Regions from separate parts of the Homo sapiens genome. Here region 2 is linked to region 1. A link means that fine-mapping ties the variant in region 1 to the expression of a gene that starts in the linked region. Tissue or cell type: whole blood. Region 1 holds a variant in brackets; the other region holds the start of a gene. All regions are shown on one strand. Distances are between the middles of the regions. Region 1 overlaps GFOD2 (Gfo/Idh/MocA-like oxidoreductase domain containing 2). Region 2 holds the start of DPEP3 (dipeptidase 3).

The links. PIP is the estimated chance that this variant, and not a neighbour inherited with it, causes the effect. A credible set is the group of variants that fine-mapping cannot tell apart.
Region 2: it holds the start of DPEP3, and the variant in region 1 is the best candidate, but not a certain one, in a credible set for the expression of DPEP3 in whole blood (INTERVAL, PIP 0.61).

What each region holds. Positions count from the first base shown.
Region 1 is chr16:67,690,142-67,695,375 of GRCh38, reverse strand. The region is part of intron 1 of GFOD2 (Gfo/Idh/MocA-like oxidoreductase domain containing 2); the gene reads left to right. Among named protein-coding and RNA genes, the nearest start is that of C16orf86, 26 kb to the right of the region's middle. The variant T/C (reference allele first, on the strand shown) is at 2,210.
Region 2 is chr16:67,977,672-67,982,905 of GRCh38, reverse strand. It overlaps DPEP3 (dipeptidase 3), which reads left to right and starts at 2,407. Exons shown (of 10, transcript NM_001370198.1): 1 at 2,407-2,812; 2 at 3,141-3,267; 3 at 4,280-4,409; 4 at 4,498-4,639; 5 at 4,899-4,968; 6 at 5,077-5,234. The coding sequence starts at 2,526. RefSeq lists an enhancer at 2,583-3,083.

The DNA.
Region 1 (5,234 bases):
GTGCTTGACCTGTTTTCTAAGAAAACTAGTAGAGAAGCCTGTAGGGGCAGAATTAGCAAAGAGAAAAGAGAGAGATGGTGGCTGGGCTCAGTGGCTCATGCCTGTAATCCCAGCACTTTGGGAGGTCAAGGCGGGTGGATCACCTGAGGTCAGGAGTTCGAGACCAGCCTGGCCAACATGGTAAAACCTTGTCTCTACTAAAAATACAAAGATTAGCTGGGTATGGTGGCGTGTGCCTGTAACCCCAGCTACTGAGGTAGTAGCTGAGGCAAGGAGAATCGCTTGAACCGGAGCGGCAAAGGTTGCAGTGAGCCGAGATTGCACCATTACGCTCCAGCCTAGGCGACAGAGTGAGACTCCGTCTCAAAAAAAAAAAAAAAAAAAAAAAGAGAGAGATGGAGAAAGTAGAAAAGGAAAGCAAGGTGACTGAGTGGCCACAGACAGTTTACCATCAGAAAGAATGAAAGCTGGTTAAAATAAAACAACCCCAGTGAGAGTACAGGAGGCAAGCCAAGCTTCACAGTCACAGAGAGTGGAGACAAGAGGCACGAAATTGGCAGGGATCTGGAGTTAGAGGCAGCCCAAGTCATGTGTAATTTAGTGGTTCACAAAGGAACAGGTGTACTTCAGATAGAATCGAGCAGTACAGGATGTTATACTGGGCTATGCTGACAAACCATCCCCTACTATAGACATTTTCTTAGTCCAGTACACTTGTGTCTACAGTAGGAGCAAAAGAGATGCTGGGCTTGAAAATGAAGTTGAGAAAACAATTTCTCCAGCCGTGGTGTCTCATGCCTATAATCCCAGTGCTTTGGGTGGCCGAGGTGGGAGGATCACTTGAAGCCAGGAATTTAAGACCAGCCTGGGCAACATAGTAAGATGCTGCCTCTATATTAAAATAAAATTAAAAAAAACTTTTTTATTAAAAAGCCAGGCTCAGTGGGTCACGCTTATAATCCCACCACCTTGGGAGGCTGAGCTGAGAGAATCGCTTGAGGCCAGGAGTTTGAGGCCAGAGTTTGAGACCAGCCTAGGTAACACAGTGAGACCCCATCTCTACAAAAAATAAAAAATTAGGCCAGGCTCAGTGGCTCATGCCTGTAATCCCAGCACTTCTGGAGGCCCAGGCGAGCGGATCACCTGAGGTCAGGAGTTTGAGACCAGCCTGGCGAACATGGTGAAACCCTGTCTCTACTAAAAATACAAAAAAATTAGCCAGGTGTGATGGCGTGTGCCTGTAATCCCAGCCAGTCAGGAGGCTGAGGCAGGAGAATCGCCTCAGCCTCAGAGCTCGGGAGGTGGAAGTTGCAGTGAGCCAAGATTGCACCACTGCATTCCAGCCTGGGTGATAGAGCAAGACTCTGTCTTAAAAAAAAAAAAGTATGTCCTAAATGCCACTGGATTATGGGGGTTGGTTTTTTTGTTTGTTTGTTTGTTTTTTGTTTTTGAGACAGAGTCTTTCTGTTGCTCTGTCACCCAGGCTGGAGTGCAATGGCATGATCATAACCCACTATAGCCTGAAACTCCTGGGCACAAGTAATCCTCCCACCTCAGCCTCCCAAAGTGCTGGGATTACAGGCATGAGGCATTGCACCCAGCGGCCACTGAATTGTTCACTTTAAAATGGTTAATTTTGGCTGGGTACAGAGTTTCAGTATGGAATGATGATGAAGTCCTGGAGGTGGATGTTGGTGATGGTTGCACAATACGAATGTATTAGTGCACTGAACTGTACACCTAAAAATGGTTTAAAATGGTACATTCTGTAATGTACATTTTTCCACTTCCCAAAAAAGATTCTAGCCAGGGACCATGGCTCATGCCTGTAATCCCAGCAATTTGGGAGGCCAAGGCAGGAGGATTGCTTGAGCCCAGGAGTTTGAGACCAGCTTGGGCAACATGATGGAACCCTGTCTCTACAAAAAACACAAAAAATTAGCCAGGTATGATTAGCAGGGCGTGATGACACGCACCTATAGTCCCAGCCACTTACTTGAACCCAGGAGGCGGAGGTTGCAGTGAGTCGAGATGGCACCACTGGACTCCAGCCTGGGTGACAGAGTGAGACTGTGTCAAAAAAAAAAAAACCCAAAAAGCCAGGTGTGGTGGCTAATTTGAAATAAGGTTCTTTGTCTGAATTATAAGTGGTCCTGGCTAAATATGCAGATGCAGTGCTACTCCCTGGATTTGGCTAGATCAGGGAGCT[T/C]GTGATGGTGTCCCATTAGTAGGACCAGAGGTACATATATCTGTCACTTTGTGTTTGAAATGCAAGCTTTTTATTTAAAAAGTGAGAAAGGATTCCTTTTAGAACCACATTTTCCTTTTTTTTTTGTTTTTGTTTTTGAGACAGAGTCTCAATCTGTCGCCCAGGCTGGAGTGCAGTGGCGCAATCTCGGCTCACTGCAAGCTCTGCCTCCTGGGTTCACGCCATTCTCCCGCCTCAGCCTCCCGAGTAGCTGGGACTGCAGGTGCCCACCATCACGCCTGGATAATTTTGTTTTTGTATTTTTAGTAGAGACGGGGTTTTACCATGTTAGCCAGGATGGTCTCAATCTCCTGACCTCGTGATTCGCCCTCCTCAGCCTCCCAAAGAGCTGAGATTACAGGCATGAGCCACCGTGCCCGGCCTTTTTTTTTTTTTTTAAATTATTCCCCTTTATCCCCTTTCTCTACTCTGGTTTCCCTATCCCCTGTAAATGTATTTAGTATGTATCCTTTCATTTGTATAATTTCCTATGAAGCATTTTTGTTTCTGTGCATGTGTGTGGGTTTTTGTTTTGTTTTGTTTTGTTTGAGACAGAGTCTTGCTCTGTCACCCAAGCTGGAGTGCAGTGGCATTATCTCAGCTCACTGCAACCTCTGCTTCCTGGGTTCAAACGATTCTCCTGCCTCAGCCTCCTGAGTAGCTGGGACTACAGGCGTGCACAATCACATCCAGCTAATTTTTTTATTTTTTAGTATAGATGGGGTTTTGCCATGTTGATCAGGCTGGTCGTGAACTGATCTCAGGTGATCCGCCCACCTCTGCCTCCCAAAATGCTGGAATTACAGGCGTGAGCCACCGCACTCAGCCTGTGTGTGTATTTTTAGTTTATATAAATAATGTATTAGAGCTCGCTATGTTTTCTTTTTTTTTTTTTTTTTACCAAGTTCATTCATGTGACTGTATTCATCTAGTATTGTTTCTAACTTGCAGAGAACCCCAGTGGGTATATCCCCCACACTTTACCTGCCCACTTCTGATCCCCAGATTGTCTCCAACTCTGCACCTCAGACATGATGTGGTAAATATCTTTGTATCCCTTATCAGTGCATCCCTATGAGAATTTCTTTGGGAACACACATACACACACACACGAGTAGAATTTGTGAGTCACAAAATGCATAGTTTTAATTATATATAAGGCCAGATTACTTGTTATTCAGAACAGCTGTACGATTCTGTATCACTATCAGTAGCACGTGAGGATAGAACCTCCAGTATGTTTTCAGAGGGTAACTTTGGTGTTTCATGGACGAATGTGGCCATGAGAAGCTGGTGACACCAGTGAGTAGGCGCATCCAGAAAACACTTTACTGAGCACAGTGAGTTCATTAATTTATTCATTCACTAATCAGTGGAGGGCCTGCTGTGTTTGTGGGCCTGAGGACACAAAAGAGGAGTAAGTTTAGTTCCTATTGCAAGTATATAGAAGGTGCAGAGGGAGGAGCTCCTGGGGGGGTACAGTCAGAAAAGATTTACAGAGGAGGGAAGATGTAGGGTAGAGAGGAGTTCCAGGAGTTGGTCATCTCAAAGAAAGCAGAAGCTGTGCTATGCAGAGGGACCTGCCGCAGAGTCTTAATTTTTTTTTTTTTGGGGGGGGGTCTAGGCACAGTGTGACTTGCTTCTGTAATCCTAGCGCTTTGGGAGGCCAGGATGGGCAGATCAGTTGAGGCCAGGAGTTCGAGACCAGCCTGGGTGACATAGTGAAACCCTGTCTCTACAAAAAATGCAAAAATTAGCCAGGCACAGTGGTGTGCACCTGTAATCCCAGCTACTCAGGAGGCTGAGGTGGGAGGATCCCTTGAGCCTGTGAGGTTGAGGCTGCAGTGAGCCATGATCAAGCCATTGCACTCCAGCCTGGGCAACAGAGCAAGAATCTGTCTCAAAATAAAAATTATGATAGTGACCAAGATCAGGAGTAGTTAGCTTTTTAAAGGTAATTGGTAGGCCAGGCACAGTGGCTCACACCTGTGATCCCAGCACTTTGGGAGGCTAAGGCAGACGGATCACCTGAGGTCAGGAGTTTAAGACCAGCCTGGCCAACATGGTGAAACCCCATCTCTACTAAAAAATATAAAAATTAGCTGGGCATGATGACACATGCCTGTAGTCCCAGTTACTCGGGAGGCTAAGGCATGAGAATCGGTTGAACCCAAGAGGCGGAGGTTGCAGTGAGCTGAGATTGTGCCACTGCACTCCAGCCTGGATGACAGAGTGAGACTCCATTTCAAAAAAGAATCAATAAATAATTGGTAAACAAAGGGACCGTATGGTGTTTATAAAATTATTGGTAAAATGATGTTACCAAAGGTAATACATAGAAGTTAAAATAGTTGTGTTAGAGATTTTTCCCTCTTAATGACAGATTTGTCCTTTTAATCATAATACAGAGGGTGAGAAGGTTCAGGAAAGTGTACATATAACAAACAGGACATTTTGTTATGACTCCAAATGTAGATAATTTTTCACATGCGTTAAACATAGTTCAGAGGTTCTCAGCTGGTGGCTGCACACTAGGATCACCTGGGGGGCTTTAAAAGTGAACGATAAAAGTGAATGATGAAGCCAGGCATGGTGGCTCATGCCTGTAATCCCAGCACTTTGGGCAGCCGAGGCAGGCAGATCACTTGAAGTCGGGAGTTCAAGACCAGTGCCACTCCACTCCAGCCTGGGTGACAGAACAAGACTCTGTCTCAAAAAAAAAAAAAAAATAGTGAATAATGGTCACCTCACATCCATCAGAACGGCTAACCAACAAAAAACACCAGAAAATAACAAGGGTTGGTGAGGACGTGGAGAAATCAGAAGTCTTGCACGCTGTTGGAGGAAATGTAAAATGGTACAGCCACTGTGGAAAACAGTATGGTGGTTCCTCAGAAAATTAAAAATCTAATTACCATGACCCGGCAATTCCACTTCTGGGTATATGCCCCAAACAAATGAAAGCAGAGTCTAGAAGAGATATTTG
Region 2 (5,234 bases), 290 kb before region 1:
CTGGTGCGTTTACAATCCCTGAGCTAGACACAAAAGTTCTCCACGTCCCCACTAGATTAGCTAGATACAGAGTGTCGATTGGTGCATTCACAACCCCGGAGCTAGACACAGGGTGCTGATTGGTGTGTTTACAAACCTTGAGCTACATACAGAGTGCTGATTGGTGTATTTACAATCCCTTAGCTAGACATAAAGATTCTCCAAGTCCCCACCAGACTCAGGAGCCCAGCTGGCTTCACCCAGTGGATGCTGCACCGGGGCCGCAGGTGGAGCTGCCTGCCAGTCCGGCGCCGTGTGCCCGCACTCCTCAGCCCTTGGGCAGTCGATGGGACTGGGCGCCGTGGAACAGGGGTTGGCGCTCGTCGGGGAGGCTTGGGCTGCACAGGAGCGCACGGCGGGGGTGGAGGCTCAGGCATGGAGGGCTGCAGGTCCCGAGCCCTGCCCGGCGGGGAGGCAGCTAAGGCCCAGCGAGAAGTCGAGCACAGCAGCTGCTGGCCCAGGTGCTAAGCTCCTCACTGCCCGGGCCGGCTGGCCGCTCCGAGTGCGGGGCTTGCCAAGCCCACGCCCACCCGGAACTCGAGCTGGCCCGCAAGCGCAGCCTGCAGCCACGGTTCCCGCCCACGCCTCTCTCTCCACACCTACCCGCAAGCTGAGGGAGCCGGCTCCAGCCTTGTCCAGCCCAGAAAGGGGCTCCCACAGTGCAGCGACGGGCTGAAGGGCTCCTCAAACGCGGCCAGAGTGGGCGCCAAGGCCGAGGAGGTGCCGAGAGGGAGCGAGGGCTGTGAGGGCTGCCAGCACGCTGTCACCTCTCATTTTTGTGTCTGTATACTAACATATATATAGAAAAAAATATTCGGCCCGGTGCGGTGGCTCACGCCTGTAATCCCGGAACTTTGGGAGGCCAAGGTGGGCGGATCACGAGGTCAGGAGATCAAGACCATCCTGGCTAACACGGTGAAACCCGGTCTCTACTAAAAATACAAAAAATTAGCTGGGCATGGTGGTGGGCGCCTGTAGTCCCAGCTACTCGGGAGGCTGAGGCAGGAGACTGGCATGAACCCGGGAGGCGGAGCTTGCAGTGAGCAGAGATGGAGCCACTGCACTCCAGCCTGGGTGGCACAGTGAGACTCCGTCTCAAAAAAAAAACCACGTCTCTAAAAAAGAAATAAGGCCGGACGTGGTGGCTCATGCCTGTAATCCTAGCACTTTGGGAGACCTAGGTGGGCAGATCGCTTGAGCTCAGGAGTTCAAGACCAGTCTGGGCAACATGGTAAAACCCTGTCTCTAAAAAAAAATGCAAATATACAAAAATTAGCTGGGCATGGTGGTGCATGCCTGTAGTCCCTCCCAGCTACTTAGGGAGCTGAAGCAGGAGGATCACTTTTACCTGGGAGGTCGAGGCTACAGTGAGCTGAGATGGTGCCACTGCACTCCAGTGAGACCCTGTCTCAAAAAAAAATTTGTTTTAATAAAATAAAAAATAACAATTAGCCATGCATGGTGGCACTGCACCTATAGTCTCAGCTACTTGGGAGGTGGAGGAAGGAGGATCGCTTGAGCTCAGAAGTTCAAGGCTGCAGCAAGCTATGATCAAGGCTGCAGCAAGCTATGATCACCCCACTGCAACTCCAGCCTGGGTGACAGATACTCTGTCTCTTGGAGAAGGAAAAAAAGCTAAAATAATGATCCCCAACAAAAATTGTTCTTAAATTTCATTTTCGGGGCCGGGCACGGTGGCTCACGCCTGTAATCCCAGCACTTTGGGAGGTCGAGGCAGGAGGATCACTTGAGGTCAGGAGTTCAAGGCCAGCCTGGCCAACATGGTAAAACCCCATCTCTACTGAAAATACAAAAATTAGCTGGGCATGGTGGCGGGCACCTGTAATCCCAGCTACTCGGGAGGCTGAGGCAGGAAAATGGCTTGAACCCGGGACGTGGAGGTTGCAGTGAGCCGAGACTGCATCATTGCACTCCAGCCTGGGCAACAAGACCCAAACTCCGTCTCAAAACTGAAATGAGATGAAATGAAATAATGAAATGAAATGAAATGAAATGAAATGAAATGAAATACCTATAGGGAATCTTTCTGTCCATCAAACCAGACAGACCGAATTAACTCTTCTGAGTCGCAGCTTAGAATATTTGACCTGCCTAGGAGCTGGGCACAAGCCGGCAGCTAACCGCCACGTGGGCCTGGGTAGGAGGTGAGATCAGGAAGATCCCTGGGCCCCTACTAGTTCCCTGCCTGGCCTCCTCCCCCACTCGTGTGGGGGTCTACGGAGCCAGCGCTGGGGGTGGAAGGGCGAGGAGTCCTCGACGCTGCAGCGGCGGTTCCGGCCCATGGGGGCGCTCTCCTGCTTGGGGGCGGAAAAGCCGTGGCGCCCCCTTGCGTGGCGCGTCGGTCTCAGAGTCGCGTGACTTCAACCCCCTCTTCGGGAGGCTGGGTCGTCATGATCCGGACCCCATTGTCGGCCTCTGCCCATCGCCTGCTCCTCCCAGGCTCCCGCGGCCGACCCCCGCGCAACATGCAGCCCACGGGCCGCGAGGGTTCCCGCGCGCTCAGCCGGCGGTATCTGCGGCGTCTGCTGCTCCTGCTACTGCTGCTGCTGCTGCGGCAGCCCGTAACCCGCGCGGAGACCACGCCGGGCGCCCCCAGAGCCCTCTCCACGCTGGGCTCCCCCAGCCTCTTCACCACGCCGGGTGTCCCCAGCGCCCTCACTACCCCAGGCCTCACTACGCCAGGCACCCCCAAAACCCTGGACCTTCGGGGTCGCGCGCAGGCCCTGATGCGGAGTTTCCCACTCGTGGACGGGTATGTAGGTGCAGCGTTTGGGCAACGCGGGGTGAGCACACCCTTGGGCAGGAGAGGAGGTTCTGAGCATGCTATCAAGGAGGCTATCAAGGAGGCTCCCTCACACCACCCCTGGATGCCCTCTCTCCTCCATCACCCATGGGTGCCCTTCCCCGCATTACTCCATTCCTGGTGGAATCTAACCCCCTCCCTCCAACCCAACCTCAGGAGGTCTCTATATGGTCTGTGTGAGGAGGTGCCTGGTGGGGTGGAGGAGGGTAGACCCAAGCACCTGATATATCCTGACTGATCTGGAGGCGGTGTTTCCATCTGACCTTCACACCCCCAGCCACAATGACCTGCCCCAGGTCCTGAGACAGCGTTACAAGAATGTGCTTCAGGATGTTAACCTGCGAAATTTCAGCCATGGTCAGACCAGCCTGGACAGGCTTAGAGACGGCCTCGTGGGTGCCCAGGTACCACAGGGACACACAGGGTGCCACAGCATGGCTGCTGGGGGATGTTGGGGTCACAGAAACCTGGGTCAGCCAGCCTCTGGGTGACTAAATACAATGGGGCATGCAGTGTGCCATCATGTGGTTTCTAAGGAGAGTGGGGCCTTGGAGGCCAAGACAGGCTAGCTGCATGTATGCCCAGGTTCTGTGGAAACACGCAGAAAATGACCAGAAAATCCCTGGTGAGTGTGGGGTCTGCCGTAACCACAAAGGACATAGTGGATTGGCCTTGGGGCATTCACATAGCACATGGACTAACAGCAGTTTTTTGCTTGTTTGTTTGTTTGCATTTTTGAGACAGTGTCTCCTTCTGTCGCCCAGGCTGGAGTACAGTGGCACGATCTCGGTTCACTGCAACCTCCGCCTCCCGGGTTCAAGCAATTCTCCCTGCCTCAGCCTCCTGAGTAGCTGGGATTACAGGCACTCGCCACCACGCCCTGCTAATTTTTGTAGTTTTAGTAGAGACAGGGTTTTACCATGTTGGCCAGGCTGGTCTCGAACTCCTGACCTCACATGATCCACCCTCCTCGGCCTCCCACAGTGTGGAGATTACAGGCATGAGCCACTTGGCCTGGCCGTAACAGTAATTTATGATGTGTCGTGAGTCCATCATTTGACTGCTGGCAGCAAACAGTCATCAAGGAACCAGGCTCGGTAGTTCACATCTGTAATGCCAACACTTTGGGAGGCTGAGGCAGGAGGATTGTTTGAGCCTGGGGGGTCAAGGCTGCAGTGAGCCATGATCACACCACTGCACTCTAGCCTGGGTGACAGAGCAAGACCCTGTCTCAAATTTTAAAATAAAAATAAAAAATAATTTTAAAAAAAGTCATCAAGGTACCATGGAGTCATGTAGTGCCTCACTTGGGGCCACTGACCCAAATGGGTGTTATGGGGTCTGAGGCAGGAGTGGCAGGCCTAGGGGGTTGAAGACCGCCCTGGCCTCATTCTGGACCCCTTGACCTACCCTCAGTTCTGGTCAGCCTCCGTCTCATGCCAGTCCCAGGACCAGACTGCCGTGCGCCTCGCCCTGGAGCAGATTGACCTCATTCACCGCATGTGTGCCTCCTACTCTGAACTCGAGCTTGTGACCTCAGCTGAAGGTGGGCCAGCAGATGAGAGGTAGTCAGGATGTCACTCTGGAGGTTCTGTTCCTGGGATCTAACCACTTGACTCTCTACCTCCTTCTAGGTCTGAACAGCTCTCAAAAGCTGGCCTGCCTCATTGGCGTGGAGGGTGGTCACTCACTGGACAGCAGCCTCTCTGTGCTGCGCAGTTTCTATGTGCTGGGGGTGCGCTACCTGACACTTACCTTCACCTGCAGTACACCATGGTGAGCATAACACCTGGCCAGGATGCTAGATGGCATGGTGTGGAAACTGCCCCATTCCTGGCATGGGTGTGACCAAGCCGTTGAGGATGAAGGGGTCCGCAGAGGGAGGCTGGACACCCAGTGGGTCCCTCACAATCCCAGAAAGCAGCTGGTTCTGCACCTGTTCTGGAAGCAGGATGGATGGATAGAGCCAGGGCCCCCAGGCTGTGATGGCCCAAGGTGTGATCAGCTAAATTGCCCTTCCATGGCTGTCCTGCAGGGCAGAGAGTTCCACCAAGTTCAGACACCACATGTACACCAACGTCAGCGGATTGACAAGCTTTGGTGAGGTGAGGACTCCTGTTTTGTACCCCAACCCACCTGCTGCCTACGGATATGTGTGTACACCTTTGCACCCCAACACCCTCCCCCACAAAAAAACCTAATTGTTTCTGCAGAAAGTAGTAGAGGAGTTGAACCGCCTGGGCATGATGATAGATTTGTCCTATGCATCGGACACCTTGATAAGAAGGGTCCTGGAAGTGTCTCAGGCTCCTGTGATCTTCTCCCACTCAGCTGCCAGAGCTGTGTGTGACAATTTGTTGAATGTTCCCGA